Linked DNA regions of Homo sapiens: regions 1 and 3 are each linked to region 2. Evidence: fine-mapped expression QTL. A gene starts in region 2. Each other region holds a variant in brackets. All regions are shown on one strand. Distances are from middle to middle. Region 1 overlaps MBNL2 (muscleblind like splicing regulator 2). Region 2 holds the start of RAP2A (RAP2A, member of RAS oncogene family). Region 3 overlaps RAP2A (RAP2A, member of RAS oncogene family).

Region 1 (10,925 bases), 50 kb before region 2:
GTTAACCATAGTATTATTTGAATGTCTATTTAAATAGAAACTGAAAAAAAATTATTTAGGATTATGAATCCTAAAATAATAGCCTAAGGAAAGAGAAGCAACATTTATCAAAAACCACTATTACATATCAGATGTGTATATACATTATTTCTCTTACTACTCAACATAACTCTGTGAAGTTTCTTATCTATTTTATATAAGTGAGCACATCTTAGAGAATAATTTGCTTAAGATTCAAGCAGGTAGGAAGCAACTGGATCTGTGTAGACCTCAGGCTTGCATGCCTGCAAATCCTGTTCTTTTGTGAACCCACCTTGTTTGAATTAGATTGGAATCTATGGTCAGTGTAGGCTTGGGATGAACCTCTTCATATGACTCCCCTTAAAAACTCCGAACTACTGAGTTTATTGCTTTGAAAAGTTTTGACTAGTTGAGAAGAAAGTTTAGTAGAAGCGAAAACTTTTTAAAGTCCAAGCTCAATATCAGAAATGGTGTGAAAATATTGTTGCTTGGTGAGAATAGCAAGAGAATCCAAATTTCAGTCCAGTGAACCAGAGCTAGAAAGCACTGAGAAAAGGCACCATTCACTCTTCCCAGGGTGGGAAAACTGGCACACAACTTCTGCCTGAAAAGAGTCTATCAAAAAGAGTCCTCTCAATCGAGACTCACTTTTTAATTTTTAACAATAATAATTTAAAAATAAAGATACTATTTTTCTTCACCATCCCCACAGAACCTCACTTTCAAATTGATCTCAGGTAAACGTAACAACACTAGTTGAGGATGAATATTTTAGGCAGCCTGCAGGAGCGACTGTAAAGGGAACAACTAGAAGTTTAATTCAGTTGTAAGTGAAACCACAGAGCTAAATGAGGAAGCAAACGGGGATCTTAATGATGATTCAGATGTACAAGCAGAAAGAGCCAGGGGTCTCACTGCGAAGCCCCAAATGGGAAGGAGAACAGAAAGGGTGGGAGGGTGGGAAAGAAGGAATGGAAGGAGAAAGGGATTCAGGATTGGCAGGAAAGGGGGATGTGGAGTTATTCTCTAACGGGGGCAGGTTTCATTTGGAATGAGGAGACATTCTGGAGATGGAGGGTGGTGATGGTGGCACAACCAGGTGAATGGAGTTAATGCCACTGAACTGTACGCTTCAAAATGGTGAAAATTGTGAGTTTTATGCTATGTCTATTTTGCCACAATTTTAAAAAATAGACAAAAGATCTGAGTGGTCATTTCTCCAAAGAAAGGATTAAGGAGTGACAAGGACAATGTCTGATTGGACCTAGGTTTTCATTTAATAAAATCTTATAGTATAAAATGGTTCTTCTTGCATTAAAAATTCTTTATGGCTGCCACATTTCCCTTTAAGAATTCTGTTTTCATAAGGTAAGGAACTGAGTGCAAAGACGTATTCTTTCTAAATGAAACCATGTCTGTGGCAACATATCTTTATATCTTCTCTCAACAAATGTACGCTAAGAACCCACCTTGAGCTGGGCGCAGTGGCTCATGCCTATAATTCCAACACTTTGGGAGGCTGAGGTGGGCGGATCACATGAGATCAGGAATTTGAGACCAGCCTGGCCAACATGGTGAAACCCCATCTCTACTAAAAATACAAAAATTAGCCAGGTGTGGTGGTGGGCATCTGTAATCCCAGCTACTCGGGAGGCTGAGACAGGACAATCGCTTGGACCTGGGAGGCAGAGGTTGCAGTGAGCCAAGATTGCGCCTTTGCACTCCAGCCTGGGCAACAGAGCAAGACTCTAGCAAAACCAAACAAACAAACAAAAAAAAACCACACCCACCTTGAGCCATGTACAGTTCAGAATTGTGGGAATACAGCAATGAAAACAGTAGTTCCTGCTCTCATGGGTCTTACATGGTGAGGGGGACAGGCGATACACAAATGTACAAATAATTACAGTCAGAGTCCTTATCATATGAGAAGGGTCATCTCAGAAAGTAAATGGTGATGCTGAAAGAATGGGCCTCACCACCGAGCTTTAATGGGGGATGGTTAGTAATAAAGAAATACAAGATAATGTGGGAGCTCTCCTCCTCCTCTAAACATTTTCCTCCTTTGGTTTCCATTTTGCCGACGATTGGCTATTTTGGCACTTCCTGAGGGCTTACTGGGGAGGGCAGATGGTGACCTGGCTTAACTACTTACCGCACTGCAGAGGTGCCAGCGTGATACAAGCCAAGTGAGGAACTAAGGCTCGAAAGGGCACAAATCTGACTGGTGGCACAGACAAGCCTCCTGAAATTCCCCTCCAGTACTCTTTTTGATTTTTCCTTTGCACCTAGATTTTACACACAATTGAGTGGTTTTTGTTAACCTCTCTCTCTATCTCTCCCTCTCTGTCCCTCTCTTTCTCTCTCCCTCTCTCTGACACACACACACACACACACACCACACACAGGCAAAGAACTAAAAAGAAAAAAACACTAATTTTTTTGCTGGAAAATTTGTTATATGGCAGCAGCATCCCACCAGTTTGAGAAATGTGTAAGATGATGACGATACACAAAGACACATGTCCAAGTCCAGTACCTTACATTAATCTTACTGTTCCTTTTACTGCATTTTAGCATTTGGTTGCTTTTCTCCCTTTGATGCCTTGAAAGCCAATTCTTAGCAGGCTAAATTACACATTCTACTCCACTGTTAAAATGGGTACTGTGGCCAAAATGTGCCCAGGATTCTAAGTCCAACATAATGGTAATGGATACAAAAGCAGGGCATTGAGCAGGATTGGACATTTTATGTTAAATCCAACAAGATCTTGTTTCTGTGATTTTTCTTGACCTGAATCTTCAATTTATTACTGGGAGCAAAATCTCATTTTGAAAAAAACCCATATCATATATGAATGCTTTTGAAATTTCTTTTCTGTTGCTGCATAAATGAATTTTTTTGGAATTCCCTTGTTGCTTTAATTTTTTTAACTTTCACGTTTATTAAATTTTTATTTTTCACTCCTGAGTTGCCAGTTCCTGTTCTTTAAAATATTCCAGATATACTTATATCAACAATAACCATGAACAAAAATAGATATATTAGGAAAATATTTTCAATGTATACAACAAGGTAGGTCTTAATATTATGTTACATATTATATTAATTAATATTATGTAACATATTGTCTGCATATTACATATATTACATATTATGTTACATAATATTAAGACCTACCTTGGGAATACAGCAGTGAATACAGTGCTGATTTTTAAAGGTATAAAAATGTTTTCTCAGATTCTACTTTATGTCCAGGAGTCATCTTCAGTGAAGCAGCCTATTTAATCTCAGAGAGCCTCACTTCCTACACAACTTACTGTAAATATTTTAAACACTTTCAAATATTTTCTTAGTGTGTCCCACATATTATATATTTTTTCTTGATTTAGTAGAGGAATTTATCCTGCTTTAGTACACATACAGTCCCTAATTTTAAACATATTCAAAATTACCTTTGTCATTTGGTTTGAAATTCAGTTCTCCTACAGAGACAGCCATGGCCTTGGTGGTTAGATCTCTGGGCTGGCCTACAACCATTTTATTTAGTTTGTGGCATTTTTATAAGTAACACAGTGCTAAAGCATGGCCCAGGCCAAATGCCACTCATGTCTATGATGTTGCTATATCTTTGGGATTCAAGAAACATATCACCAAACCCCCAGATGTCCATGCAACAGAAAATAGAAAATTCCGTCACCTCCTCCACCTGCTGGAGCTGTGGAGGCGCCATAATCCCTGGTGAATTCCATGACTAGAATGTCATCCGGGGAAAGCCTGTGGAGTCGGAATGGGAAGTATGGTGTGGAATCACAAATGTTGGGTAAGGAATAGGAAGATAAAATCTCGGGCCTGCTTCTGGGTAGCCACCAGACCCATTCACACCACCTTCTTCCCCATTTCTCTTGATGCCATGGTTTCATCTGCCAACTATTTTTTTTTTTTTTTTTTTGAAAAGGGTGTCTCACTCTGTCACCGAGGCTGGAGTGCAGTGGCGCCATCTTGGCTCACCACAACCTCCAACCTCCGCCTCCCGGGTTCAAGTGATTCTCCTGCCTTAGCCTCACTTGGGCCATGCCTGGCTAATTTTTTTGTAGAGACAGGGTTTCACTTTTTTTTTCCTGGCTATCATGCAGTCCTTCCAATCTAGGGTTTTGTTTTGATTTTACCTTTTCTGGCACCTGCTGAGGAAACACAGTCGCATAACTCCCCTCCTTCTGAATAAATACACAGTGCTCTTGAATATGTCTTTGCTTAAAACACTTCTAGAACGCCAGCGGAAAGGGCCAGGAAAGAAAAGTCTCCTTCTCATGCCTCTTTACCTTCATCCTCATTTATATCATATAGGAGAAGAAAAGTGTTCACCCTTGGATGACATATGGGTTGTTAGATGGTCTGAGGACAAGATTCCCATCTCAGCATGAGAGCCACAGAAATGATCCTCAGAATTCCCCCAGGGGAGCTAGGATTGAAGGAGACTGTCTGGAGTCAGGGAGGGGATTATAATCAAAGCCTAACTGCAATACTCATAAGAACCTAGATGTTTTTACATGTGACATGGACTCATGCAAAGAGCAGAATCTTATTCAAAGTTGAGCATTCCCGTTTATGAATTTTATCCAGATACTCTAAGTTGTCAATGTGAACCCTGGTCAGTAATCTTCAGCGAGGACAGTATTATTGCTTTTCATGTAAAACGTCAATTATTAATAGTTTTAAATGACAATTTTTCTTTAGTATATCTAAAAATATTTTGTTCAAATATAATCAAGTGGAAAATATTGGACAGAAATGAGTCATCCACAAAAAGTATCATTGAAACTAGGGGAATTAGAGCTTTGAATATAAACTTTCTACTAAACAGCAGAGGACAAAACAATAATTCTGGCAAAACTCCTCTTGAAGGTGCTATGAAATATTACGGACATTACAACCTCAGTGTGCTCTTCTCCAGAGTAAAGCTGATTGTCATATTTGATAATTTTTCCCCAGGACCTCAGTGTATGCCTTTTCTGTGCAAATAAAACTACATTTTGAAAATAAGTCAAATATGGCATGACACTGCCCAACCTCCGAACAATATTCCCCCAGAATAATGAATCAGACTATTTTTAAGTGTCTTTTCATATACTACTGATGATCTCTGAGCTTTTTATATAATTAATTTTTTTTTTTTTTGAGCGGGAGTCTCGTCCTGTTGCCCAGGCTGGAGTGTGGTGGCGCAATCTTGGCTCACTGCAACCTCCACCTCCCAGGTTCAAGTGATTCTCCTGCCTCAACCTCCCAAGTAGCTGGGATTACAGGCGTGCACCACCACACCCAACTAATTTTTGTATTTTTAGTAGAGACAGGGTTTCAACCACGTTGGCCAGGCTGGTCTCGAACTCCTGACCTCAAGTGATCTGTCCACCTAGGCCTCCCAAAGTGCTGGGATTACAAGCATGAGCCACTGCACCCGGCCTATATTTAAAATTTTATAGTCATGAAATAGGCCAAAGAAAGTTCTTGAAAGTGTACATTTGTTAACATGTATAATTATAATTGCTTTAATTACTTTTTTATCTGATACCATATATTCACTAAGAGACTAAGACACTTCTTTTGACTTCAGTAATCCATACTGTGATTAAGTACTGAATTATACTGGAGTCAAAATGTACACATGTCCCTTTGCCTCTGTGCAGTTTGCTTCAACTGAAAGATCTCACAAGTGTAGCCTCTCAGGCAAGATCAGGGCATTTCAGACAGTCATGGCTGCTGTGGAGAAGAGGTGTGGGGCAGTGGGGAAAAGGTGGAGAGAATATTAAATGGTGCACAGACTAAAGGAGGAAGCAATGCTAACAGAGAGTGGGAAGAAGGAACTTGTGAGACAGAATCAGAAGAAAACACTGGATGAAGAAACACAGACTGGGAGGGTGAGCAACGTGCGAGCCTCCTTAGCTTAGCCCTATTTTTAGGAAATGCCA[A/C]TTAATTGCCTATTTTTAAATTAATAATAAATTTTGTTTAAAGAGGCAGTGAAATATTATTAATATCTTTAACTGCCTTCTGGGGAAACAGGGCCTTGTAACCATGGCAAAAGATTTCTAAGAAACCTACCAAGTCTAGAAGGTTACTTTAGGTGAATTTTTATCTGCTGTATTTCCCTTCTCTGTGAGTGATTCTGCCCCCAGCCTGGAATATTTTCCCCTTTATCTATAATGGGGAGTAGGGAGAATGGGAGAATGGGGAGGGAATGTTTATTTCTCTTAGATATTTCTGAGTCCTTAACTACCCTAACAAGGTGCACAGATGACACATCTTGTGCAAAGGGTTCTTTTTCTGCCCCATTCCTGTTTCTCCCATGAATGGTCTGGTGGTCTTCTGTTGATGCCAGCATTGTGGCACTGTGTCTTCAATGACTTCAATTTATTTAGCCATCCATGCAAGCAACAATTAATAAATTCCCAGCCCTATCCTAGATACTGGGGCTATAAAGATGAATGAGACAGTCCCCCTGTCCTTAAAGAGCTTGGTTTGGCTGTGGACCCAGTTAGTGCACCAGCCCTGCTTGGAAGTACCCACTTGAGATTCCATGTTAGTGACATCAAGATGCATTGAGATTCCTTAGTAGTTTAGCAAGGCTGCACAAATATGTTATAAGGTATTTTTTATCTATGCCATCCAAACTCAACATTACAAAGACAGTCCTAATGGCTATTCACAGGAAGACTGAACCAAAACATCCATTATTTCTCTTTTCTAATTGCTTGATGACTTGCATATATGGAAATTCTTGGCATTTTCACTGGAATGTTTTCCTATCAATTAAGCAGAGCAGGAACAGTTCTTACCAAATTTAATATTGAGCTATCATTTTAAAAAATAACTCATCTGACATCCTTGAATCTTTGAAATGAGCACTTTTACATAAGAAGTATAAACACTTCTAGAAGTCACCTAGAAGCCCACAGTTTCCAAAGTTATACATACGTACAATTCCTGGAGATCAACCTCAAGGTAGAAAACCCAGAATGTATTAATACTTGGTACCTCTGAAATACTAAGGAAATTCTACGTTGATTTGTCTTCTCTTGCACCATTCTGCATGAGGACTGGTTAGTTCAGCTGTTAAGTTCATGGTGCTGATTAGTTCAAGTTCAGTGTTTCAGTCTCTGCAGAGACTATTTTGCTTTGAACCAAGTGTGTTTCTCACCCTGTTCAGCTCTTTTTTGAGCGCACATCATGAGTGACAGGTATGGATGGCTCAGCCTAAATCCATCATCACATGGCAGAGACAAGAAAACATGCATGTTTCATAACTGATGACTCAGTCAAGGGAGGGTTGGTATTTTCTTTTTAGGTAGAGGGTGCCTTGTTGGTCACATACTCTCTTTCTTTGGGCGAAAGCCAAATGTCTGAAAGTTGTAGGACTAACTCTCCTGTAAACCTGCTCTCCTGGTCTCACTCTTACCACTGCTGCCTGCCATGATGTTGCCTGTAGCGTTGGCTGATGCCAGCTCAGGAAGCCATCCAGACTTAGTGAATATAGTGGATATTGCCTTCAAGAAAGTAAAGCTGATGAGGACACAAACCAGCAGCTCTTAGCTGAATTTAGCCCAAAGATATATATGATCCTTCTGTGATGTGAATTCATTGCTGAATTTCCAGCTTCTTTTGGCAAATGAAAAGGTCAAGTAATATGGAGCCCATGTTTCCGCAGGTAGCACTTGGCTGGGGCTGAGTGGCTGTTGCCACACCCTCGACCTGGCCTATTCACTTACATATCTTTCCTGCCTGGCCCCAGGAGGCTTAGTATTAGACAGTACCTAATCTGGTCCACTTTTTAGTAAGGTTGGCTACCACTGCACTGTGAGTCAATGGCAGGCAATTCACTGAGGACACTATAATTATTAAATGGCTGCTCATAACATATTTGATAGAAAAATAACCCATTTGATGCTTTTGAAGCCATTCATGCTTTGTCTTCAACAAGTAAATATGAAACTAATCAGGTACTGGATTCACATTGGGGTAACTTGAGAACGTATATTGAGCAGAATCATCAGATTCTTAAATCCAACCACCTAGGGGAGACAGTTTAATTCACTTAATGTGATTTCCTTTCCTTATTGATAAGCAGACTCCATTGTAGCCAGCTGATATTTTTGCATCAGAGATACTCTTGTTCCACCCAGAGGGGCCACTGAAGATTTAGAAAAGTACTCATGATTTGAGATCAAGTGTATCTTTGCCTTAAAAACAGAATCACAGATACTGTGGGCATCAGCTATTCCTATTTTTGTCTGTTCTCCTTTTAGTGGAAAAAGGAATTGAAAATAATGCTTGCAGTTCAGAATTTTGATTTACCATACTAGATTAGCTAGAATCTTATTTAATAATTTAACTTCCTTCTCCTGTCATGGTGCTTTGTTATATAAAACACTACTTACTTGAGGCAATAGTCTCCCAGGGAGACAAATAGAAATATAGCTTGTTGAATATCTTTGATTTCTTTCCTACCGTCATAGTTTGCCAAGATTTCTCAGCAGCTGAGGCAGCGGCACTGTGGTGCGGTAGGGTGTTCTGATGCTATAAGCAGACACGTTTGCAACATCCATCTGGAGGAGCCCTGGGGCAGGATGTGGTTGACCACCCAGGCAAGGATGCCCTGAATGAGAGGCCCAGCAGCCTCACAGTCCCCCAGCAATTTCCACCCATCTAGCCCCTCCAAACAGTCTCACTGTCTCCCCTCTAAAGCTCCAAGTGCATTTGCTGTAGGTTCCACCCCAGGGCCTCGCCTTCCCCTGATTCCCAAGCTCACAGGGGTTCTTCTAAGCACCCTCTGAAGCAGGCTCCATGAGGCACAGCCATGCTCTTTGGAACCTCTGTGTCCCGTCGCCCTATCTCAGACCGTCCCCATGCCCTGGAGGGGATGCCTTCACCAATGAGCAGAGTGACATCTCCAAACTCATGCTGGTTTGTGCAAGCACTTTGTACATTGTGCAAGCCAGTTAAAATTATGCACGTCATCTTTTCCATGTCTGCAAAATATGATCACAATACTGACCTAGCTTGTAAGACTCTAGCTTGTAAATTCTCAGAGCCTCCTGAAAATCAAGGGGATATATCTTAAAATTCAAACAAAAACAAGGGTGCTTCAGAGAGGAGACTGGCAGGAGACCCCCAATGTGGTGGCTGTTTCTCTGACTTACGCATACCCTGGCAGACCCTATGAGTTTTCCACTTCCCTTTCAAGACAGCATGGGGTGCTGTGCCTTGGAGGTTGAGTAGGGAACTTTGGGCACCAGCTTTGACCAAATGCAGGACAGGAAAGAAGTGATGGACAGTTGGTCTGTTGAGCTCACTTTGGTGAACTGTATTTTAATTAGCATTTTAAGAAATGGAGAAGTTCAAAATTAAGGTTGATCCACATCAGATGAGTAGCCCATGTGCCAGGGCCACATATAAGCCTGGTATTTTAAGAAGGTATGTTTCTTATCTGTAATGAAATATTCAGGCACCCCATGAAGGTTTTGATCCTCCTGGCCACAAAACTACAATAAAGATGGAAAAAGTTTATACATATACATACATACATATATATATATATATATATATCATTGGTATGGGAGAAAATCTCTGAAAAGAGGTAACAGGAAAGCACACAAAATGTATCTATTCATCAAACATTAAATTATGTTTGTTTAGTGCTAAATCAACATATAATCTGAATAAAGAAAAGCCATGTTAAAAACTAGACAAGAGGTTCCTCTTTCTCTCAAAGCAGCTTCTCCTCTCCCTCCCGCCAGTCCCCACAAGCACACACACTTGGCTTTCCACTTTCCTCCTGTCCTGTGGGTGGTCTTCCGGCTAGATCTGTCCCACACTCCCCTGGGACTCTCGGGCCTGTAAGGTCCTGTGCCTCCTAACAACAGAAGTGCAATCAGATGGGTGCTAGTGATATGACAGGCCCTCAGTTGATAACTGTTCTTGATCTGTATCCCTGTTCTGTCTATATCTCCAGGGCATATTTCACCCCAGAGTACAGATAATACAGACTGTATCAGCAAGCTGTATTTCTCAGGAAAAAAAAATTTAATAATCAGAAGATATTTCCAAGAAAAATGCTGCCACCCAAAAATGGAACCTATAAGGAAAAACACCCAAAGCTTTCCCACCTTCTAAGATTAAATCTGTTGAACCTCTTGAAGTTCACAGATGCCAAGAGTGTGATTCGTTTTTTATACCAAATGACAGCCAAAGACAAAGACCAGGGGATGGCCAGAGTTTTCTGGCCTAGATGCCAGGCAGCAGTCACAGCTGAGAGTTCAATAGTCCCAGGGCTCATTTTTATTGATGTCTTTATTCATATAATAGCTCATCGGTAGACTGGGGCAGAGGGGAAGTGCAGTCTGGGTGAGACTAGTTTATGCTTTAGTTAGCTCCAAGACTGATTTACAGTCCAATTAAATTTCAGTGGTCATTTATGTCTGTTCGTCAAATACAAGTTCAAAGCCTTGCCATAGGTAACTTCCATAACCCACGTTTGCCCATTCTAATTTGCCATTGCTATGCTTTTCATAGAATACTTCTTTTCCAGATGGTTAGGAATTTCATTCTTTATAGCATTTCAATTTCAGCAAATAAGCAAGAATCTAAATGCATTCTAAAATACATATTATTATATATCAATTTAAGAAACTGGCTGGGTACAGTGGCTCACGCCTATAATCCAGCACTTTGGGAGTCTGAGGTGGAAGGATTTCTTGAGCCTAGGAGTTTGAGACAAGCCAGGGCAACACAGGAAGACCCCATCTCTACAAAAATAAAAATGGAAATTAGGCAGGCATGGTGGTGCGTGGTTGTAGTCCCAGCTACTCAGGAGGCTAAAGTGGGAGGATTGCTTGAGGCCAGGAATTCAAGG
Region 2 (10,925 bases):
GTGATTCTGGTATTTCCCTCATTCACTCTTACTTCATTCCTGCTTTCTTCCTTTGCTCTTCTGGTTCCTTACATCTAGAGTGCTCTCTTCTGCCCCATCTAGCCTGTCCTTTCGCCACTTCCTTCAAAACCTGATACAATATTAATTTGCTTCAGACAACTCTCCTGGACTAACCTACTCCAATTTACTGTTTCTCTCGACCTCTGGGAATGTCAGTAAAAACTATACATTTCATTCTCATTTACTTGGAAAGTGTTTGTTTTTGTAATTTCATTCAGTTATTTAGTTATATATTTTGTAATATTTTATTATTTATATAATTACTATATACCCTTTCTAATTCCTGATTTTTCCTTATTAGTTTTAAGCATAACCATTATTTTATAATATAAACATGTAATTGGTTGCTTAATATCTGTCTCTCCTGCTAGAATACAAGCTCTTTTGGCTAATTGCTTATTGTTTTATCCCCAGAGCCTAAAAAATATACACAGTAATTACTCAATTAATATTATAGTATCTTTGAACTATCGTTCAGATATTAGTGAAATGAAAGTGCTCACAAATGCTTGCTGATTTTTTAAAGCCCGATTTTGGCTGGAATCCCTCATACTTTTTGTTAACAGGTGGGATGTATTTTGCTGTAAGATGCAGAAAACCTTACCAACACACACTTAAATTGAAAGACACCAGCTGTTTACTTAGCCATAAGTCCAAATGTGGGCAGTTCTAATGTTGGTTTGACTGTCCAATGTTGTCATGCAGGACCTAGGTTCTTCCCATCCTCCTCCCTGGCCATCCGAAGTTGCTGGCTTTCTACAGTATTGCACCATAATGTCATAATGCATCATAGCCCCCAAATGGAGGCCACATTCTCATATTTCAATGTGTAAAGCAGGAAGCAAAGAGAGCGACATCAGAAAACGGGGATATTTCCTCACTCTTGTCAATATCCTAGAAATCCCTCCAGCCCTAGCAGCCTTCTCCCCATTCCAATGACAAGAACTGAGTCACGTGCCTACTTTTGGACTAACCGTGGGCAGAGGGAAAGCAATGCTATTAAAGTCCAATCCTGATTCATCCCAGCTTCTTTGGCAAAAATAAAGGGAAACTGCTGGGTACGCAAGCAACACTGTGCCTGCTCTTCTGCTTTGTTAAATGAACCACACTGAAGCTCTGTTTTCCGCAGAATCCTCTAGCTCTTAAGATTCTTCAGGCTTTTTCTTTTTTCTGCCTACATTTTAATCATTACGTCTTTTCTTTCAGATTTTTTTTCTGATTAAAATGGCCTTTTGAAACATCTACTCTCTCCACCCATACGTTTCTTTTATTGAGTTGTTTCCATACTCTTAATTTCTGCATTCTAATTCCTTTTCTTTTCAAAAGCACTGAGACATATCACATTTTTTAAAGGAAGAACAAAGTTTATTTTGCCCCTTCCTTTCCACTCCACATATATACTGCAGATTCTCAACTGTATTAGGAGCCTCACAGGTCAAGAAACCATCGTCTGCTCTCCTTATACTTGCCAGCAGCGTTTCACAGGTGCTAAATGTACTTGACATGCCCTTCCCCTTTATGTTTAATCAGAGGCATGCAGGCTTTAATAAGAAGCATTAGGAATCAGGGTTTTACAGTCGAAAAGTACCCCTCGCATTACAAACATCCTCTACTAATTTGTTTCTATTAAATTATCTGCATATTTGCTTCTTGCTGGTGTCAGGAAGTCCCAGAATACAGTACCTTTCCCACTTCATACCACCTTTTCCAACACCTTTTACAGAAAGAAAGGATGGACTTGGGTTTCCACGGTAACACAAGTGCGATAATTGAAGGTATCTGGCTATAGGTGAGATAACTCCCTTTCAGATTTAGTGGAGAGAGGAGAAATGAAGATTTTCTTTCTTTTTATTCTCCTGGCAATGCACTTTGGAAACTAAAGGGATCCTGCAGTGTCAGTTACTGCGTTAAGTTTTCACTATCTTACAGATTTACAGCTCTTGGGAATAATTCAAATTTCTTTTATATCATTTTTATTTTTTATTTCCCACAAACAAATGAAGATATAAGTTATTTCTATAATCATCTCAAAATAGAGTTTATGCTGGCATCGGAATGAACATGACTAAGGGGTTAGAAAATAGACATCCATCTCCCACCCAAGTCCTCTAAATTCTCTACACGTCCTGACATCCTTTTTATAGCAGCTAATCTTTCACCCAACATTTCACCTACAACCACAAATCAGGTAAGTACCATCATTTAAGCCAGAATAGGTGAGAAAATATGCTCCGACCTGTCATGTTTCTTTTGCCTCTTGGTGGTTAAAAATCAACCTTTATGGTACTGAGCATGAAATCTGAGGCCTGTCAATATAAGGCCTGTAAATAAATGAACTGTAACCACCCCAAGGGCTGCAGTCTCTATACCCCTTCTTATCAAAAACGTCAGCATTGATGAGAGGTCAGGGGAAATAGCCTGAGAAATGTCACAAAGCTGTCCTACTCTGTATTATGCTAAATGGAGTGACTACGGAGCCCACTCACTATTTTTGTGACAGCTTCAATCCAGAGCTTCTCAACATCTAGGGACCTAGGAGTCATGAAAACAGTTACTTAAGGCAACCTTCTGGACCCCACAATCCCAATACAAATTTCTCAAAAACATTAATCACTGGAACTTCATTCCTTGCAAAGTAAATGGACTTAGAGCTCCTTTGTAATGCAAGGTACTAGATGAGTTGTCATGATCTAGAGAGAAAGCTTCACGCTTCCTGGCTCTATTTAACAACCCTAAGAACTTCTTATCACCAAGATGCACAGTTAGAATCTTAAGACAGTCTGTCTTTCCTTGGAAAAGAAGTATAGCTTCTACTAACCCAAAGTAACCATGAATAAGCATACCAATTTTACACAAAATATGAGACTTCTGGAAAGCTAGGTGAACACCATACTTACCTACATCCTCTTGAAACATCCCTGCCAAAGTAGCTCAGATATGAAGCATCCATGTAAGCTCTTTCAATTTTAATTCACTATTTCATGTTAACTAGCCTAGGATGAAATAGTAGATCCTCTTCGGTTCCAGTTCCCTTAAAACAGTCCTGATTCTTAGTCCTTTTTATTAATATAATACCTTCACTGCTGATTCTGGTGGCTCAGATAGTACCATTCATATTTTAATGATATGTAATCAAGAAATGCTGAGTTATATTTTACTACATACACATTTTTAAATTCAGAGGACATTTGTCCTTGATAATTTTAAATGAAAACTTGGTGTGTGTTCATTACAGCAAGGTAATGCAAATATAAGTTATCCATTCTAATATAACGAAGCTATAGGGAAATAAGAAACTACTAAATTTGAGTAGTCTTTGTAGTAGTTTGACTATCGACAGAAAAGATGGTGAAAGAATACCTGGCTTTTAACTCAGACCAAAATCCCCTCTGCATGATGACCTTGTGGGAAAGAGGAACGGGGAGAGGTATGCCAGGCTCTAACAACAGAACTACAGAAACGTGTTATTCGCAGGAAATGTGCGACAGTAACGAACAGGTGAGACTAGTTTGAGAAGGACATAGTTTAAAGAAAGTAAACTGAATAACCAGTTACTGCAAAAAATAATGCAGGAAAGCTTGGGGATGTATCGTCTCCTAAATTTGACGTTATGGGTGGGAGAGGATGTGTAACTAAGATGCAATGCTAGCGACAGAACGCTAAGTTTTAAAACTCAATAGTGAAAGAAAAAAAATAATGTTTTGGGAGGAACGCCTGGAAGACCCATGCAACTGCTGCACGATGTTTCCTTAAGGACCGGAACATTTCTCACCCTGAAGACAAAAGTCCCTGTGTTCTCGATTCAGCCCACATCCCTCAGCACCATTTCCATGCCCATCATTTAGGCAGAATGCCACGGAGGCGACGTGAAAAGTGGAATTCATCATTCTGGCTTGCAACGCATCTTGTTCTTTTGCCAGAACAGGGCACAGCAACTGGCTCCTCAATCTCTGCCCCTCCCAAACCCCAGCAGCCGGTCCCTGTCTCCATCCCGCCGGCCTCGGTGGCAAGGGGCTCGCGAGCTCTGGTTGGCTTGGCCGAAGCTTCCGTCACTCGCCAGCTCACCTACGATTGGTTGGCAGAGCGTGCGCGAAGAGCCCCGCCTGGCAAGGCACTGGGAGGTGGGCTTGCGGATCCTACGACTAGCGTTTTTCTCGATTGGTTGAAGGAGTAAAGGCACGTGGTATGGGGGCGCTCTCTTATTGGTCGTGAATGGTACCTTGTGGTACAGAGACGTGATGTGGTTGGCTAGAATGAATCCCAGCTTCCCACTAGATGCCCCTAGCTGGCTGTTGCTATGAGGAGTCCAGGGCCTTCCGGCTGCCGTTCGGGATTCCGCTCTCCAGGTTTTCAACTCACCCGTGGCTGACAGGGCGTGGGAAGAGCTCGACTTCAGTTCGGCACCGAAAGGGGCGGGTCTAGAAGAAATGTGGGCGGGTCCAGAGGGTTGGTGGGCGGGACCCCGGCGACGTCAGCGGGCTTGGACCCGACTTCCGTGGTGTGTGGCCGCCTCTGACTCGCCCCTCTGGCGCGCTGCTAGAGGGGGGCGTCACCCTCCCATCAATGTCCTAACGCTCCAAAGCTTCATTTTGTTGCGTTTACACAACTTCAGTCAGAAGCCTGTAGGTGCCCCCCCCTTAAAGCTTCACATGCTAATACAAGATAAAACCAAAGCTCTAGGAGTGCTGACAGACTGGGTGGCATCGGACAAAGGCCCTCGCGGCCCCTCTTGGGCCTTGGGCATCTCTCCTTCACTCCCCGCCTCAGGATAAAGCTTGGAGGTAGCTCTAGCCCCTCTACCATCTCATCCCTTCCGAATTCTTAATGTCTCGGGAGTCTCAGGTTGACGCTGCTCCTGGCTTGGGCGGGAACTGCGCATGCTCGGTACACAGGCCCTGGGGTCTGACTGGGCGCGCTGGGTTCGGCGCTGCTCGGCGGTCGCGGTGCTTGTTTATCTCCGCGCGGGCAGAAGCTTCCGAGCCCCGCAAAGCCTCTCGGGAGCGCTCGCGGCCCGTCGCCTAGGGGGCGGGGGCGGGGCTGCGCCGCGGGCTCCGCCCCGGCCGCCGGACCCCGCCCCTGGCCGCGCTGCGGCTGGGGCTCGGGCGCGCGCTCGAGCGCTGGGGGTAGCGGCGGCGGCGGCGGCGGCGGCGGGCGGGGATCTGGGCGTGGAGGCGCGAGGGGCGGGGCGGGCGGCACTGCGGGCCCGCGGCTCGGGCGGCACCAGCGGCTCCCGGTCTCTCTCTCTGCTCGCCCTCAGTCCCACCCGGTGCCTACGGGGCCGCATCGCCGCCCGGCTCGGCCCGGCCCATGCCCAGGGCCGCTGCTCCCTCAGTTGCCGCCGCCGCCGCCGGCGCCCAGGGGGCCGCCGCGGCTGTGAGGTGGGGGCGGCAGCGGGAGGCGGCGGGGCGGGCCGCCGGGGCCGGGGCTGGGGGCGCAGCGCGGCCGGCGTAGGTCTATGTCGCGGGCGGCGGCGGCGGCGGCGGCCGCGGAGGGACGATGCGCGAGTACAAAGTGGTGGTGCTGGGCTCGGGCGGGGTAGGCAAATCCGCCCTGACCGTGCAGTTCGTGACCGGCACCTTCATCGAGAAATACGACCCCACCATCGAGGACTTCTACCGCAAGGAGATCGAGGTGGATTCGTCGCCGTCGGTGCTGGAGATCCTGGACACGGCGGGCACCGAGCAGTTCGCGTCCATGCGGGACCTGTACATCAAGAACGGCCAGGGCTTCATCCTCGTCTACAGCCTCGTCAACCAGCAGAGCTTCCAGGACATCAAGCCCATGCGGGACCAGATCATCCGCGTGAAGCGGTGAGCGAGGGCACACGGGGGCTTGGCGGCTGCACCCCGGAGTCACCGTCCCGGGGCTGGAACTCCCCGCGCGGGGCTCCGGGGAAGGGGCTTTCTGGGGGGTGGCTCCAAGCTGGAGGCTTTACTATTGTCATTCTGCTCCTCCTCCTCAATCTCAAATTTGAGTGCTTTGTTTCACAACTAAAATTTGGCATCGTGTTAGCCCACAGAACAGCTCTTTGTCTCTTGGACGTTGTTAGCATTGCTTGTTACAGAGCCCCCAAGGAAACAAAGTTTAAAACTTGCAGGGGGGAAAGGGGTGGATAGATTTGTCTTGGGAAGAGAGGAACTGTGCAGGTATAGTCGAGACATTTGCAGACTGAACAACAACAATCTGCCTTGGCAATGTTTGACAGTAAAAATCGCTCACACACCTATACAGTAAAGTCAAGTCCAGAGGAAGGAGACCTTTCTCATCTCGTTAAAGGTTTATGGTTCCAAGGCGTTTTACAAAAATTAAGTCTCTAATTTAGTGCAAAACTTTAAAGACAGATTATTAAATTATTTGAAGACATCATAAGCTAAATGGGGTTTCGAGAATATTAACAGAGGAGTACAAATAAGCCATTCACAGGAAAAGAATGCAGCTTAACTGTTTGTTTTTGTTTTTTTGTTTTTAATATAGCCGCCTTAACCCCTTCCAAAAAAAAAAAAAAAAAAAAAACACCACCACACCACCACCACCAGTTCCTGGAAACAAAACAGAAGCTTCTTCAAAAGTGTGACACAAGTATTAGCTAATTTAAAGTTAATGTTAATAAGCCTTTATATATATATATAAATTCTTTTCTAAAGTATACATTTTGGAAATATGGCTGATAAATGATTTAAAATGTTTGTTTTCTCTTAAATTCACTGAATATATTTTTCCGTGTAATTTTAAGCATTAGAAATGTGATAATATCTTAGTTCAAAGTTTTGGCAAATTTTTCTAATTATCATTTAATTACACATTACTGTTTCATCTAGTTCTTGTTAGTTAATGCCTGCTGATAATTTTGGTGTCCTTTTTTTCCTGCCTTATTCTACCTAGAGCCTAAATCTGAAGACCTTTACTGAAAGATGGTTGTAAGTGCACCGTAGACACAGTCACATTGTAAGTCAGTTTGAGTCCACTCATTTTGAAAGAGCAAGGACCAAGTTATGTGTACCCAGGGGATGATCAAAAATTCATTACGAGTAGTGAGTTTTTAATGCAACCTATGAGATCAAAGAGAAGGCTCTCTCTCTATTGCTCCACCCCCCCTTAACTGAGTATGCACTTTAATCGCTGAACTAAAATCGTGCATGTTATTCATCCTTGTGTTAAATTCCAAACTAGAATAAAGCAGATATTTTCGTGGTCTCTGCTGCTAAGATTTGTAAATTTGATAGCTTTGTACTTCTCCAGTATCATTTTCCTAAAGTTAAATGTTTATAGTTAAGAGATGAACAATTCTGGTGTTAAACTTAGTATGAGGATGGCATTTAAGGGGCTACATTTAAGTTACTTAAATTCTTATTACCCCCTCCCCCAACCACTCAATTAAAAAGAAACAAACCAAACCAACTGCAGGGTAGTCTGATACATTGCCACATGTCAATGTTAGGCCAAATGCATACATCAAAAAATAATCTAAGTAAATGCCCCAACAGCCTCACCCTTCACATTTAGATATATATGCTTAAAGATATGAAGATGCACATATACACTGATAAAGCCACATACCCATGGCTAACTTCTTGACACAAGCCTAGGGAACAAATATGGCAAAATATTATTGGATAATATGGTCCACATAATTTTGTAGTTTCTTGTAATTTAGTGCAGATTACTTTTCTCAGTTATAATAATAGGTTAGTCTAAACTCAGCATATTGGAGCAATTTGTTTATTTTCACTATGACCCAGAGGAAAAACATAGAGTAAAATTCTGCATGCCCAGTATCATTTTACTCACTAGTCTCAGTTCTTGATATAAAAAGATCATTGATCAGCTGAAGTAGAGTTCATAAATTCTCTTCACCAGAATTCAACCGTTGTATACATAAGAACCTCTTGGACCCTCACTTGTGTGTCTTTGTAATATGGTAGTAGTAAGGTATTTTACACCTCATCCTAACCCCAGCGTCTGGCTTCCCATCATTGATGGAGAGGACATGTGAATGCAGGTGGCCTCTTCTTTACCAGTCTTTCAGTATTTGATATCTACTGTCAAATTCAGTATTCAGCTTTAGGTCTAGGTCAGCACTTTTCAATAGAGATATAACGTGAGCCACATATGTAATTTTAACATTCCTAGTAGCTGATTTTTTAAAAATAACATAAATATATGGAATTAATTTTAATGTATTTTATTTAACCCACCATATTTAAAATAGAATCATTTTGACATGTCAGTATTCAAAAATTATTAATAAGGTACTTTACTTCTTTATACTGTGTCTTCAAAGTTTGGTATGTGTTTGACCTACCACATCTCAATTCAAACAAGTCACATTTCAAGTGCTCAGTAGCCGTATGTGGCCACAGGCTGCCATATTGGACAACAGAGGTCTAAGGTGTATATGATTTGGGGAAATGCTTGCTTATTTCTCTAAGCTTCAGTTTCCTTATCTGTGAAATAGAGATTAGCATGCACCTTCCAGAGTCCTTGTTAGAATTAAATGAGATAATGTATTTTAACATTCCCAAAACAATACCAGTACACAGAAATTGCTCAAAAAATTCTAGCTGTCATTCTTACTTTAATAACTTTGTCATTTATCTTCCTTAAATGTTACCCTTGATATAAATGTAATTTTAGAAGAAATAAATTTGTAATTGCATTTTGGAATTCATTACTTAGTATATTCAAGATGAGACTAAAAAGCAATGAGGTTAAAATAATCCTTGGAAGAATTGTGTTGGTATTCTCTTGAAATTATTTCCCCTTATGAAGGATCTGATGGAAAAGGGCATGAGAATGAACATTTAACTTCAAGTACAGTATAGCAATAATGCATAGCACTAATGCATAGCCAAACAACGAATGGAGCTTTTCATTTTTCATTTTCATTTCAAATAATAGCAGTCATTTTCAAGGATTGCTATTACTTGAAATGTTTCACTTTTAAGAAATGTGAAACTGACCCATACTCCCTTAAGTGTCTGTAAGTGTACATACCTCCGTATACATACATGACCTCTTGTCAAAGCCAAGTGGACCAACTGAAAATGGCTATATTTGTAAATTCATATGCTTTCTTTTCTTAACTTGATTTTGGGTGAGATGACACACACAAAGAAGAGTAACAGGGATATAGGAAATGTTTTTCAGTTGAAATAAAACTAGAATTTTTTTCTGATTTTGTAATTGCTTTTTTCATTGTTACCCATGCCAGGATCAGCCATGGTCCTGACATGAAGTTCTTGGAACATGATATACAAGGCCTCTTTGCTGTTAGGAAAAAGTCCAGAAATCTTCAACATGACCTTTCACAGTCCAGCTTGCTCTTATCCCTCCCTGCCTGTGCAGCCTCACCTCTTGCACCCATCCTTTTATTCTAGCACCCAGACCTTAAGTCCTTGAAAGTACCTTTCTCTGGGCTCTCCTTTGGCCTGTGGAAATCTACCTTTTTGCAGAGTTAATTCCTACTCCGTCTTTCACCCTCACCCCTGCTTAACCCATTTATACCGGAGGTTGCAAATGTTTTTTGTGAAATATCAGACCTTAGCAATGACCTTGAACAGTAGGATATAAATAACTCCCACAAGCTTAGTGTTCCAATAATGGAACACTAGGCATAGATGAGTTAAAAGATTTTTCCCCACTGAGGGAAGATGTCCTCTCAAACCAAAGTAACCCCTTTCCTGTCTTCCCTTACTAAACTTTATGCCTCACCTCTTTGCTCAATCACACATACCCTGTCCTTTCCCTTTTCTTTGAAGCACTCATCCAAATTTAATTATTTGTGTGATAATTTATGGGTAGCCAGCCTTTCTCACAAAACTCCAAGCCCACGTAGGTGACACAGCTCCTACTAGCACATAGGAAACAAGAAAAAATGTTGAAAAAATGAATGTTCAGAAAGAAAAGTATTTGTATTGTTGTTTGGCCTCAGTTTCCCTAAACATTTTGATTTCATAGATGGAGGAGATGATCTTTTAAAGTTCATTTTGCAGATGGAGATGATCTTCCTTCAGCTCGAACTTTCTGTGAGAACACTTCCAGTTGGGGCAGTGTTTAATACGAACCTCAAAGAATCAGAAACATGATGTATTCCAGATGGAGGAAATGGCACAGGAAATGCATAGAATATGTTTTTTGGATGTTAAATAGAGCAGACTGGCCAAATGGGGAATGTATATAGAAGTGTGAGGGGAGGTAAGGTGAAAATTTTTAAAGCTAAATTACTGAAGGTTAAAGACTTAGGAGTTGATCATGTAGTCAAGGACCATAATCACAATTGTCATAGGTATAGCAATATGTAGTGATATGGTAGATGTCTTAGTGGTAATAGACTACTCTGTTTCATAACAGGAAGAATAGTCATAAATGTTGTGATAATCCAGTTTTTACGTGAAGTGTGAAAATCCTGAATTAGCATGGTGTCTGTAGTAACAGGAGAGAAAGGATGCAAGGAATGTTGTAAAGAATGAAGTAATCAAACTCAGTGGTAGAGGAAGAGGAAAAGGTCAGAAGTAACCTTGACATTTTGAAATGAACAAATAGGATTATGGAGGAATAGCTGGGGGAGATTATTTTCAGTTTTGGAGATGGTAATTATCCAGATAGCCAGCCTAATAAGTAATTAGAACATTTGAATAAAGCCTGAAAGGTCAGGTTATGTATGAATATGAAGACTCAGGATCATCTGCGTAGTTCAGATTGGGAGAGTAGATGAAACCTACTGGGTAGAGTATAGAGACAGAAATGAATGGATATGGCTAACAATAGAAATGAGGAATGAATGAATATAGCCAAGGATAGAACTCGAGAGTTGTAAGATACACAGTGGAGACTTCCTATATTGCAGTAGGCGAGAAGGCGTGGGG
Region 3 (10,925 bases), 34 kb after region 2:
TTGTATGTAAGAGTCCTAGAAGATGTTAAAAACCCTTGTGTCTTATGTTCAGAGCTGTCAGCATGATCTAAGGCCCGAAATCGTAAGGTACAGTAGTGTACAGTAAATTTATATAAAGTCCTTTGATATAAATTGAAGTTGTCCAAATTCATTTCCTATAAAATGATAATATCCAAATTCTAGGTTTGCCTTTGATGTTGTTCCTTCCACTCATTTTTAAGTTGTTTTCATGTTTCACATTGCCAAATGGCACACTACCTGGAGTATGCCCTCTTGTTGAGACCATTCTTAGTTTGATATAGTGTCAAAGAAAAAAAGTGAGAATGTTGGGAATTTGGTTTGCTTTACAAGTTAGGATGAGTGGAGAGAACCCTCTTGACAGGATGAAGAAATCTGTGGAAGTATCATAGCGAACAATAACCACCTGCCTATTATCCAGTTTCCTGAATGATAAAAATTGTCTATGCATCCTGCCTCAAAGGCTTGACCATGGGGTGGTTTTCTCTTCTGACAGATTTAGCTGTTTCCAGTCACATTTGTTATCACTTTTGTGCGATCTTGCTGTTTAGCTCCTTTAAATCAGAAATACATTCTGCTTATGGGAAGACACACACACACAAACACACACACACACAGATTTATACTAAAATCACAAAAACCTTTTAAAATGTCTTGTGAAAATATATTAGCTATCTTTCTTAGAACAAACATAAAGAAGAATAGTAAATAAATGTGCAGTCCAGCACCAGTGTTGACATCTGTTGTGAAATGTGCTACATGGAGTAACCATTGTAGAGACAATCATCTTAGGCACCAAAATGACTTAGGAGCTTCTTTCTTTGTTCTTTCTTATCACTTACTATTTTTATTAGTTTAGCTTTTTCCAAACGTGTTTACTCAGAGATACCTATTTTAGTTAGGAAGAAAAAGAGAAATAACACCAATTAAAGCTAATTGAGGCTGAATTCTTGTCAGTCTTAAAAGAATCCTAATTGTTTCTCTTTGAACTGACTAATCCATAAAAGTTTTCTGAAGGGATGGGGTGTGGTTGTATTTGATAGCTTCCATTTGGATGATTTCTACTACCTTTTTTCTTGTTTGAGAACTATTAGAACGAACATGATCATTTTTTCAAGCTGGAGTGCGGTGGCACGATCTCAGCTCACTGCAACCTCTGCCTCCCAGGTTCAAGCGATTCTCCTGTCTCAGCCTCCCGAGTAGCTGGAACTACAGGCACCTGCCACCACACCCAGCTGATTTTTGTATGAACATGATCAATTTTATACACATAGAACATAGTAAAATGCTGATAATTATAAGTTGTTTGTTTACTCATTGTAGCTATTTACTGTGTGATCAACTGTGAAATTTTGTGCAACCCTCTCTCAGAATGGAAAAAAAAGAGGATTTAGTCTGAGTTTCTGAGAATAATTTTCCAAGTATATCTGGAAAGGTAAATTGATTTTAAAGGATATATAATTGATTAATTAAAACATCATTTCATAAAACTCATTTTATCATCCACTGTGAGAGCAGCTTCAAATGCCCTCAGATCTAAGTATCAAGCCAAGTGGTACAAATCATTTTCATGCAACTGAAGATACCATTTATGTTGGAATAGCCCCCAAAAACGAAAATACACGTGACCTGTTTAACTTTGTGCTAACTGTTACAATGTATGTGTGTTTTGTTTATTCTCTCATAGGTATGAGAAAGTGCCAGTCATCTTGGTTGGGAACAAAGTGGACCTGGAAAGTGAGAGAGAAGTATCGTCCAGCGAAGGCAGAGCCCTTGCTGAAGAGTGGGGCTGCCCCTTTATGGAAACTTCCGCTAAGAGTAAAACAATGGTGGACGAACTCTTTGCAGAAATTGTGAGGCAGATGAACTATGCTGCTCAGCCTGACAAAGATGACCCATGCTGTTCTGCATGTAACATACAATAGCATCCAAATATGGCTGTCCTGGATGGGATTTGCCCAATGTCGTAGGTGATAGAAAACTCGCCTACTCCACTGCAGAACTTGCAGAATGCGTGGTGTTAATCTACAGAGAACTGCAGCCCTTATTCAGAATTGAGCAGTGATTGTCAGTTGATATCTCTGAGTAACATTTGGGTTCAGTAACTACAGTTTTCACCATTTGTCCTCAGTCTCCTTTATGCATCTGCAACTTTAAGGCATAGTCCATCGATCTACAGGGTGATCTCATTTGAAAGCTATGATGGCATTGTCGCTGAGTTGACAGAAGCAACTATTGTACAAATTAAAAATAACCATAAGGGAGAAACCAGAAGAATTCCTCTGACCACTTACAATTAAAATATTTTGTCTTCTTTAAAAAAATAAGTAAAGGAGAAATATTTTCCTACAAGAGTACTGAATTTCAGGAAATGGGATAGAGCTTCTAACCAATGTATTCCGTCAAGTAAGATAATAACAGCTGACCTGCCAACAGCATTACAGGGAGATTCTTTGCTCAGCTAACACATTTCTGTTTTTCAAAATTGATGCTTAATTGTAGCTGTTATTCTAATTTGTGACATGGAACTAACTCATGCTTCAATCCTTGATAGAGCAAAACTCAGAACAGGTTATGTAAAAATATAGTCTGGCTTTAGAATTTGTTAATTCACCTGCTTTGCCACAGAAAATGGAGGCTTTCACAAGGGTTTGATCAGAATTAAAACCCCAAACCCGCCCTCTGTTAGGGGTGGTCTTTATAACTTTACTGAACAAGAGGGAAGCAACTGTGATGGGAAGAGATTACCTAGCCTTACTAACAAGAAGCATTCTAATAGATAAACTAGTACCATCATGTAAGGAAGATGAAGCCATGTTGCATCCACATGTTCCCGTTTGCAGAAACCTCACAGGACAGTACGAATATCTGGCATTTTTAAGTTCATTAAAGCAGCAAATTCCTTCTCGCCTTTAAGGGCTATGGTTGTAGTGTGACCCGTGGCTAACCTGCTTTCAAAATCAAGTATTTGCTGTAGCAGAGCTTTATTGCAGGCATTTTAAAAATTGAATAACCATGTGAAATAATTTGGGCTTAAAAGTGAACATAAATTATAGAGTGGAAGGTAAGGGACAAAAGCCTTTTACCTTTAATTTTCCTGGAGAATTATATAAAGGTTTTCTTAGAACAATTTTGCCCTGATTACTGAAGCGTCAAATAAAGCTGGAGTGAAAATTTTGTTTTGAAAAGGTGCTCAAGCTCTGACATTTTTGGTTTTCATAGTCGTGAAGTATTTATCATTTGCATGACTAATGGCACAGGAAAAACCTATTCATAAGTTTTACAATCAAGTATAGAGGGGTCTTCAGCTAACTTAGTTATACATAAATGCTGAAAAGATTATCTTGAGCTGGGCCTTGGGAGAAGAATTTGGCCTTCAGAACTGCAATATCACTGAGCCTGCGATCTATACACCACCCCACATTTTGTTGGTTTCACAGTCTTGTGCAAGTAACCTCTGGTCTTACGTGTGTAACTGAGAGAAGAGTGTGTGTTTGTGTGTGCATGTGTGTTTATTGTTCCTAAGAATTTGGCACAAGTCAGAGATAATTGCCTATACTAAGAATCTATACTGCAGAATATAGTGTATCAAAAACTTTTTTCTTTTAAATTATTAAAGTGTCTTTTATACTTTTATGAAATCATTGGTAGCCCCCCAAGTGTTTAATAACTGGCATTAAGCTTAGAGGGTGAAAAAAAAAAAAAAGATTGATAGTATTTTTCATAATGAAAAAACTGAAGAGATACGTGAATGAAACCAGGCCATAGCTGTCATAAATCTTTGACTTTTGAATATTTACATTCTTCAGTATAATTTTTTATAATCCTCAATTATGAACCACCTTGTTTATAGGACAAAAAAATTTAACCAATTTTATTGAAACGAATTTCACTGTGTAAAAGTTGGTTTGATTCAAACATGTAGAGAAGTTGTAGATTCAAGATATATGATTTCTCTATGGAAATAAAAATATTTGTTAGTGAATTGGTTGAGTTTTGATTCCTCTAACTTCTCAGAATGATTCTTTAGAATTCTATAATTCATAGCAATTTTTGACAAGTAAGATTGCAAAATAGAAATATCTATAAAGATTCCACAGTTTGACATTATGGCTTGCTATGCAGATGTGAAAATAGGTTAAATAATATGAAAGATATGGCAGAATGTAAAGTGGAAAAGATGACCTAAAATTTTGAGTTGTATTAATAGTTAAAAACATTTGTGTCAGATGACAGGGTGGGCTTTTACTGTCAAGACATGAATAAGAACTGATCTGGCTGCCTGATGAGTGTTTCCACGCAGCCCTGCATATTTAGTGACCAAGGCATCAAGGACATCCCGAAACTGGAAATTCATATCCATCTGGTATGAATATATAACTCAGCTGGCAAATGAATGTGTTTGTTGAGATATTACAGTAATAAAACACTTAAGAACAGGAAGATTACATTTGTTGGCATACGAAACCTTAGTGGCTACAGAAGAAAGTTGACCTTGTGTCACTATTTATTTTATGCCCTGATCAGACTAGCAACTTAGATAAGTGAAAGTTTTTCTAACATGCCTTAAAAATATTATGGTTTGATCCAAAGACCCACTTTTTCTTTAGCTCTTGTGATAAGATTTTCTTTTTTTTACTTTTATACAAAGGCAGCATCTTTGAATTTTTTTTTCTTTTGATGTTGCAACTTTTGGGTTCTTTTAAACTGTGATAGTGATGGTAACTGATGCCTTTCATTTTGTTCAACTTATACAAAACAAGCCAGCATCTGATCAAAAGTATTACATAAAATATTTTCTTAAACTATTGAAAGGTGCTTTGATGATTTTCTCCTTTGGTTTGTAGAATTAGGACTGAACTTTTGACTCAAATTGCTACAGTTGCCATCACCTTTCTGTGGTAATACTACTGATATTTGCTTTTCTATATAAAGAAATGTTGCCTAAGGCTGTCTGGTATTTCTTTTCAAGGGTTTTCCAGTATGAATGTTAATGTTGTCAGTGTATGTATGAATATGAAAGTGCTTTGTTTTGTTTGTTGCTGTTTTTTGTTTATGTGTGTGTTTTTAATTTTTTTGTTCTTATCAGCAGTCTTGTGTTAGCACTGGGTAAGCTTTAATTGTCCCTTAGCCAATCAAACATTAAGGACTATGGAGGTCTTTTTTTTTTTATTTAACATGTCATTGTTCATCTATTAAATCTTGATCAGGGTTTCAAGAATGACTGCAGTGGGTTTTGGAAACAGACTTATCATTATTGATTTGAGGTTTCCCAGAGATATAGTTCACAGTTAATTGTTGCGCTCTAATACAACTGACCATTTAAAATTGAACAAGTTTATTGTTTTGTAACAATGTCAGTTGTTAAACCTTGACATTTCAATTAAAACATGAATTGTAGTTATAACTCAATGCAAATTCAACAGTTGTATTTGGAGTTAAATTATTTTAACAAATAAATTTATTTA[A/C]TGAAACTCTGGATTTGCTTTGTTTTGTACATGCTCATGAGAGAAATGTATTATATACAAAAACAATTAAAAATTGCCATATAATGAATTTAGTACTCTTCATACAAAAATATTTTAGCTGATTTGAGAGTTCATCATATAAAAAGGCAGGTAGGTAGATAATTTTCATAGTCTTTAAAAATAAAAATAACATGTAAGAGACTGTAAAATCAGTTATTATAAATATAAACTTATCTCTACAAATGATTTTATATTTTGAATGGTAGCTGGTTAATTTAAAGCCTGATGCTAAGGTTAACAGAATTGTTCAAATAATTAACATTAATTAGCAATATCACTAAAATGATTCAGAGGCCTTCTAGTGATGGCTTGAAGCCGTCTTTCTGTTTTCAGGTCATGTGGATCCGAAGGTGCCAGAAGCTGAAGGTTGCCGCCAGGCTGTAGGGCCTGCTTGTTCTATATGGGGCCCTATGAAAGTTGACAGATGCTGTTAATTGTATACAGCCTTCAGCTGCTCTGATAAGGAGCCCATTCATTTCCTAAGCCAATTTAAACTATGCCTTTTGGTTATGTTGCCTTCAAACTCTGTTGAAATCCTCTGGCAGCATTCCACCAGTTGAGAAGCTTCATTGTTTTAGATTATAAGAATAATTTGAATGAATATAACAGAGGCACTGTAGATAGAATCCCAGATATTTAAAGGAAAACATGCCTATATTTTAGGAATATCTTCTGAAGAACTTCATAATTTTATTTGAAGTGTTTGTAAATTTTTTAATAAATTATTTAAATGTATCAATAGTGGATAGTTGGAAGAACGTCTTTGAGGCTAAAAAGTAGTACTCTGAAATTCTCTCAAGTTATATTATTTGTCTGTTAGAGGTCCACGAATGAAAATATATGTAGCTAAAGGAGTAAGGTGCTGCCCAATTTGGAACCCAACTGACCTCTAGGATCTATGAAGCAGAGAATATTACCACAAACTTCTGAAAGAAGCTGTTGACCTCGTTTCTTAATTTAAAATATGTTGCCACATAAATACTAATAAAACATAGTTGCTCTTCATCTCTTAAATGGATCATTCCAACTGGTTTTACATCGTTGAATATTATCTAGTATTTTTAATAAATATTTTCATAAATAGTTTTTGTGGTTTTTTTGTTTGTTTTTGAGACAGTCTCGCTCTGTCACCCAGGCTGGAGTGCAGTGGTGTGATCTTTGCTCACTGCAAGCTCCCTCCCGGGTTCACACCACTCTCCTGCCTCAGCCTCCCAAGTAGCTGGGACCACAGGTGCCCATCACCATGCCTGGCTAATTTTTTGTATTTTTTAGTAGAGACGGGGTTTCACCATGTTAGCCAGGATGGTCTCGATCTCCTGACCTTGTGATCCTCCCACCTTGGCCTCCCAAAGTGCTGGGATCACAGGCGTGAGCCACCATGCCTGGCCTATAAATAGTTTTTAGATAATATTCAACATCCCCAACATCGAGGTATTGAGTTTTAAAAGATTTGCTGCTATTCTAGGTAAGACGCTGTGTTATTTCTTTCTATATTTTCTTAGTAGTCTTCATGTTAGCCTCTAAGGATTCCTCCAAGATTTCTCAGCAGAGAAAAAGGTAGAGGACTAGCTGCTTGAAAGAGTAAATACGAAGACCTATTTAGTATGTATGAGTTGGGAATAAAACTGAAGGAAAGATTCTTGGTTTAGCTTATGGGGATTTTTTAGTATAAGATCCTCCCATTTTAAAAACTTCAGTATCAATGATTCATATTTACAGTTTTACACTATTTTGAGTGTGATGTGCTTTTATACCTTTAAAAACATCAGGATTAGTGAAGGGAAGAAAAGGTCACCCCAAGAGGATCATGAGGTCAGGAGATTGAGACCATCCTGGCTAACACGGTGAAACCCTGTCTCTACTAAAAATACAAAAAATTAGCCAGGCGTGGTGGCACACACCTGTAATCCCAGCTACTCGGGAGGCTGAGGGAGGAGAATCACCTGAACCTGGGAGGCAGAGGTTGCCATGAGCCGAGATCGCACCACTGCACTCCAGCGTGGGTGACAGAGGGAGACTCCTTCTTAAAAAAAAAAAAAAAAAAGTCACCCCAACTTTCAGTTCCCCAAAACAGCCATGTTAACAATGGATGTAAATCATTCCCAGCATCTTCCTATGCACATATACATATGCAAGTACGTGAACATAGGTAGAAGGATAAATAACTCGATGTTACTTTTGAGAAACTGGCTCTAAGTACTAAAAATGAATCACTGAAAGTCACACAGCTAATAAAGTGGCAGAGTTGAGTTTCTAACTCTGCCACTTAATTTCTAATTCTTCTAACAAGCTCCTAACTCTAAATGACCTTTTCCCCACTGTTAATCCTTTCACTTAAATTGAATCCACTCATTCCATGCTCATTCAGCTATTATTTATTGAGAGGTTACACTTGCATCTGGCACTGCCACAATACAGAGATGGTCATCTACACATAAACCCTGATGTCAAAGACATCCTAGTCCTGTCTTCTTGCCATTCCTTTTTCTCTTAAGGCAGATACAGTTTAGTTTACTAGCAAGAAATAATTTGTACCTTCCCTACTTTCACATGTCAGCATCCCAGTAAACCCAGGCTGAGCCGAAATTCCAGACACAGCCCCAGAGACTGCTGCTGGCTCTGTTCACTTTTCAAGATCGGTGCATCAGCCTGAGCTAGTCCCTCCCGGGATCTTGAGGTGTCTGTGGGACACAGTAGACGGGGATGGCAATACAGCAGGGCTTCAAGGCTCTACTGTTACAGGCTGGGTCTACTTCTCAGGAAGAATTCAGAGTAAAAATAGGATTAGTGAGGGGCAGTGGGGATACAGAGGCAGGTTGGGGACAGCAGGGCAAAGGGTTCTATGTATCAGATACTACACTGAAGAATAAATGCTGGGTCCATGCCTATAGTTAAATACCAGGTGTTTTTAGGTTTCAGTGAGTTTTTTTAGTTTAAAATGTTGGTTTGTTCACAGCACAGCTCTGTAGTGTGTTCTGAAGAGGTCTTATACCATGAGAGGGTTTGCTGAAAACGATGATAGAGTCAAGCAAGTTTGGGAAACCCCACATAACACATCTCACATCTTGGAAAAAACTCAAATTCCACTCATGTCTCAAAAATAACTAGACCCCAGGACACTTTCTTTCAATTATACATAGTAGCACTCTCTGGAGCACAATTTGGAAAATGCTGCTATTAGATATTTGGCCTCCAAATGCTGATGTGGGAACTCTGTCCAGGTGAGGGGACCTGGATCGGTTGTGAGCGTGAGAATTCCTCTGACCCCTGTAGTCTCTAGAGGGATGGCAGAGAAAGGGAGAGGGTTGGGTGCAATAGCTCATGCCTGTAATCCCAGCACTGTGGGAGGCCAAGGTGAGTGGATCATTTGAGGTCAGAAGTTCAAGACCAGCCTGGCCAACATGGTGAAACCCTGTCTCTACTTAAAGTACAAAAATTAGCCAAGCGTGGTGGTACATGCCTGTAGTCCCAGCTACTCTAGAGGGTGAGGCAGAAGAATTGCTTGAACCTGGGAGGCAGAGGTTGTAGTGAGCCGAGATCAGGCCACTGCCCTCCAGCCTGGGTGGCAGAGGGAGACCCCATCCTAAAAAAAAAAAAGAAAAGAAAAGAGAGAGGGAGAAGAGGAGAGGAGGCAATCTACAGTTGATGGACATTGGAGTCATTCCCAGTTTGAGTCTATCATGAATAAAGCTGCTATGAACATCTGTGTACATGACTTTTGGTGGATAGACACAATACTCACTCCTAGGTCACTATCTAGGAGGGGAATTGCTGAACTACAAGACTTGATTGTCAACTTTGGTAAACATTGATAGTTTTATCAAGTGGTTGTACCAGTTTACATAAACAAGCAACGTGTGAGTACTCCAGTTGCACCATGTCACAGGATGGATTGCCTGGGAAGAGGGCTGTGATACAGAGCTTAGTGTGCAGGATGCTTATTACCAAATGTCCTTGGGATTAACTCCTGTGGAAGGGAGTAGAGGAAGTAAGATTGGCCAGAGGGAGAAGTTGTGTGATGCAGGGCCAACAACCCCCAGACAGAGGGAGTTAGAATGGGGCCCTTAGAATTGTCCTGAGTTGGGCTCAGATGGTTTAGTCCTCTGTACCCTCTGCCTGTCAGTCACTGTGACCTTGAACAAGATGCAGAGGCAATCCCTGAAGGATCAGAGAGTGAAGGTTGTCAGCATTCTCAGCAGCAGGGCAGCAGTTACTTGACTGAAAGGAGGTCCAGGTGGTGCCTCATGGCATCTACCAACTCCACCTTCCACACACATACCTGGCACTGTCAGGCTTTGTCATTTTTCATTTCATTATTCTGGTGGGAGCGTGGTGGTATGGCATTGTGGATTTCACTTCATGTTTCTCTAAGGCCAATATATTTATATGCTTATTGGTCATTGGTTACCCTCTTTTGTGAAATGGCTATTTATGTTTTTTGCCCATTGAGTAAATGTTTTGTTTACTGTTTCATGAAGTGACTCAAAAAAGATTTATTTAATCTTTTACTTACATATTTGTAGGAGTTCTTTACATTTTCTGGACACGTGTTTATAAGTACAGTGTACTATCCCAGTCTGAAGCTTGCCTTTTCACACTCTTGTTGATATCTCCTGATAAACAGAAGTCCTCACTTTTAATGAAGTCAATGCACCAATCTTTTATTTGATGGTTAACTGTTTTTGTGTTCTTTTAAAGAAATCTTTGCCTACTTTAGGGTTGTTCTTGACCTCCAGCCCCTCAGGGGTATGCTGAGTTGACCTTATGAATATGATAATAGGAAAATAACCATTGTAATCATACAGTTTATTGAACAGTGATACACCAACCATCATCATCAGTCTTTGTTTCATATTATTGATGAAATATTTAAACATTAATAGAGCTGGCTCTTGGCCAGTGTTTCTGCAAATGTGTTCCATCAAGTACTAATGTTGAATAGGAAAAAGATTTCCATGGTCGAATAAGTTTGAGAAACACCTGCTTAAACAAAGTTAAATAGGCTCTTGTGGTTTTCAATATCCTAATGTGGATTATGTAACATTGTGAGATATAAATACATTATGTTCTGCAAACTATTTAACCATAGGATGCTAGCTTTTCTTAGAACATGTCACAGGACTAGTATTTCATAGTTTGGTAAATACTTCGCAAGGCAAAGGGTATGATGTCCAACAAAAAACAGCTTAATAAAAAACTGAATCTGAGAGTTCATAGTGAAATTAAAAAATAATAATAAGGATGAGCCATTTATAGGATACTAGCTAATAGATATGGAAAACAGAACCAAGAAGTCATCCCTTCCAATCCTCCACATCAAAGTAGATTCAGGGAAGGATCAGCAATCAGCAATGCTGAGGCCATTGGGTGGAAGGGTTA

The links.
Region 1: its variant is fine-mapped to the expression of RAP2A in monocytes (TOPMed, PIP above 0.99). The same link has a PIP of 0.9 or more in blood mononuclear cells and whole blood.
Region 3: its variant is fine-mapped to the expression of RAP2A in whole blood (TOPMed, PIP above 0.99). The same link has a PIP of 0.9 or more in lung.

Annotation. Positions count from the first base shown.
Region 1 is chr13:97,378,718-97,389,642 of GRCh38, forward strand. All of the region lies in intron 8 of MBNL2 (muscleblind like splicing regulator 2), which reads left to right. Among named protein-coding and RNA genes, the nearest start is that of RAP2A, 50 kb to the right of the region's middle. The variant A/C (reference allele first, on the strand shown) is at 5,989.
Region 2 is chr13:97,428,915-97,439,839 of GRCh38, forward strand. It overlaps RAP2A (RAP2A, member of RAS oncogene family), which reads left to right and starts at 5,255. Exons shown (of 2, transcript NM_021033.7): 1 at 5,255-5,870. The coding sequence starts at 5,557. RefSeq lists enhancers at 4,352-4,491, 4,439-5,370, 4,642-4,771, 4,792-4,841 and silencers at 4,992-5,351, 5,372-5,431, 9,283-9,476.
Region 3 is chr13:97,462,500-97,473,424 of GRCh38, forward strand. RAP2A (RAP2A, member of RAS oncogene family) reads left to right here. Exons shown (of 2, transcript NM_021033.7): 2 at 1,706-6,629. The coding sequence ends at 1,943. Among named protein-coding and RNA genes, the nearest start is that of RAP2A, 34 kb to the left of the region's middle. The variant A/C (reference allele first, on the strand shown) is at 5,487.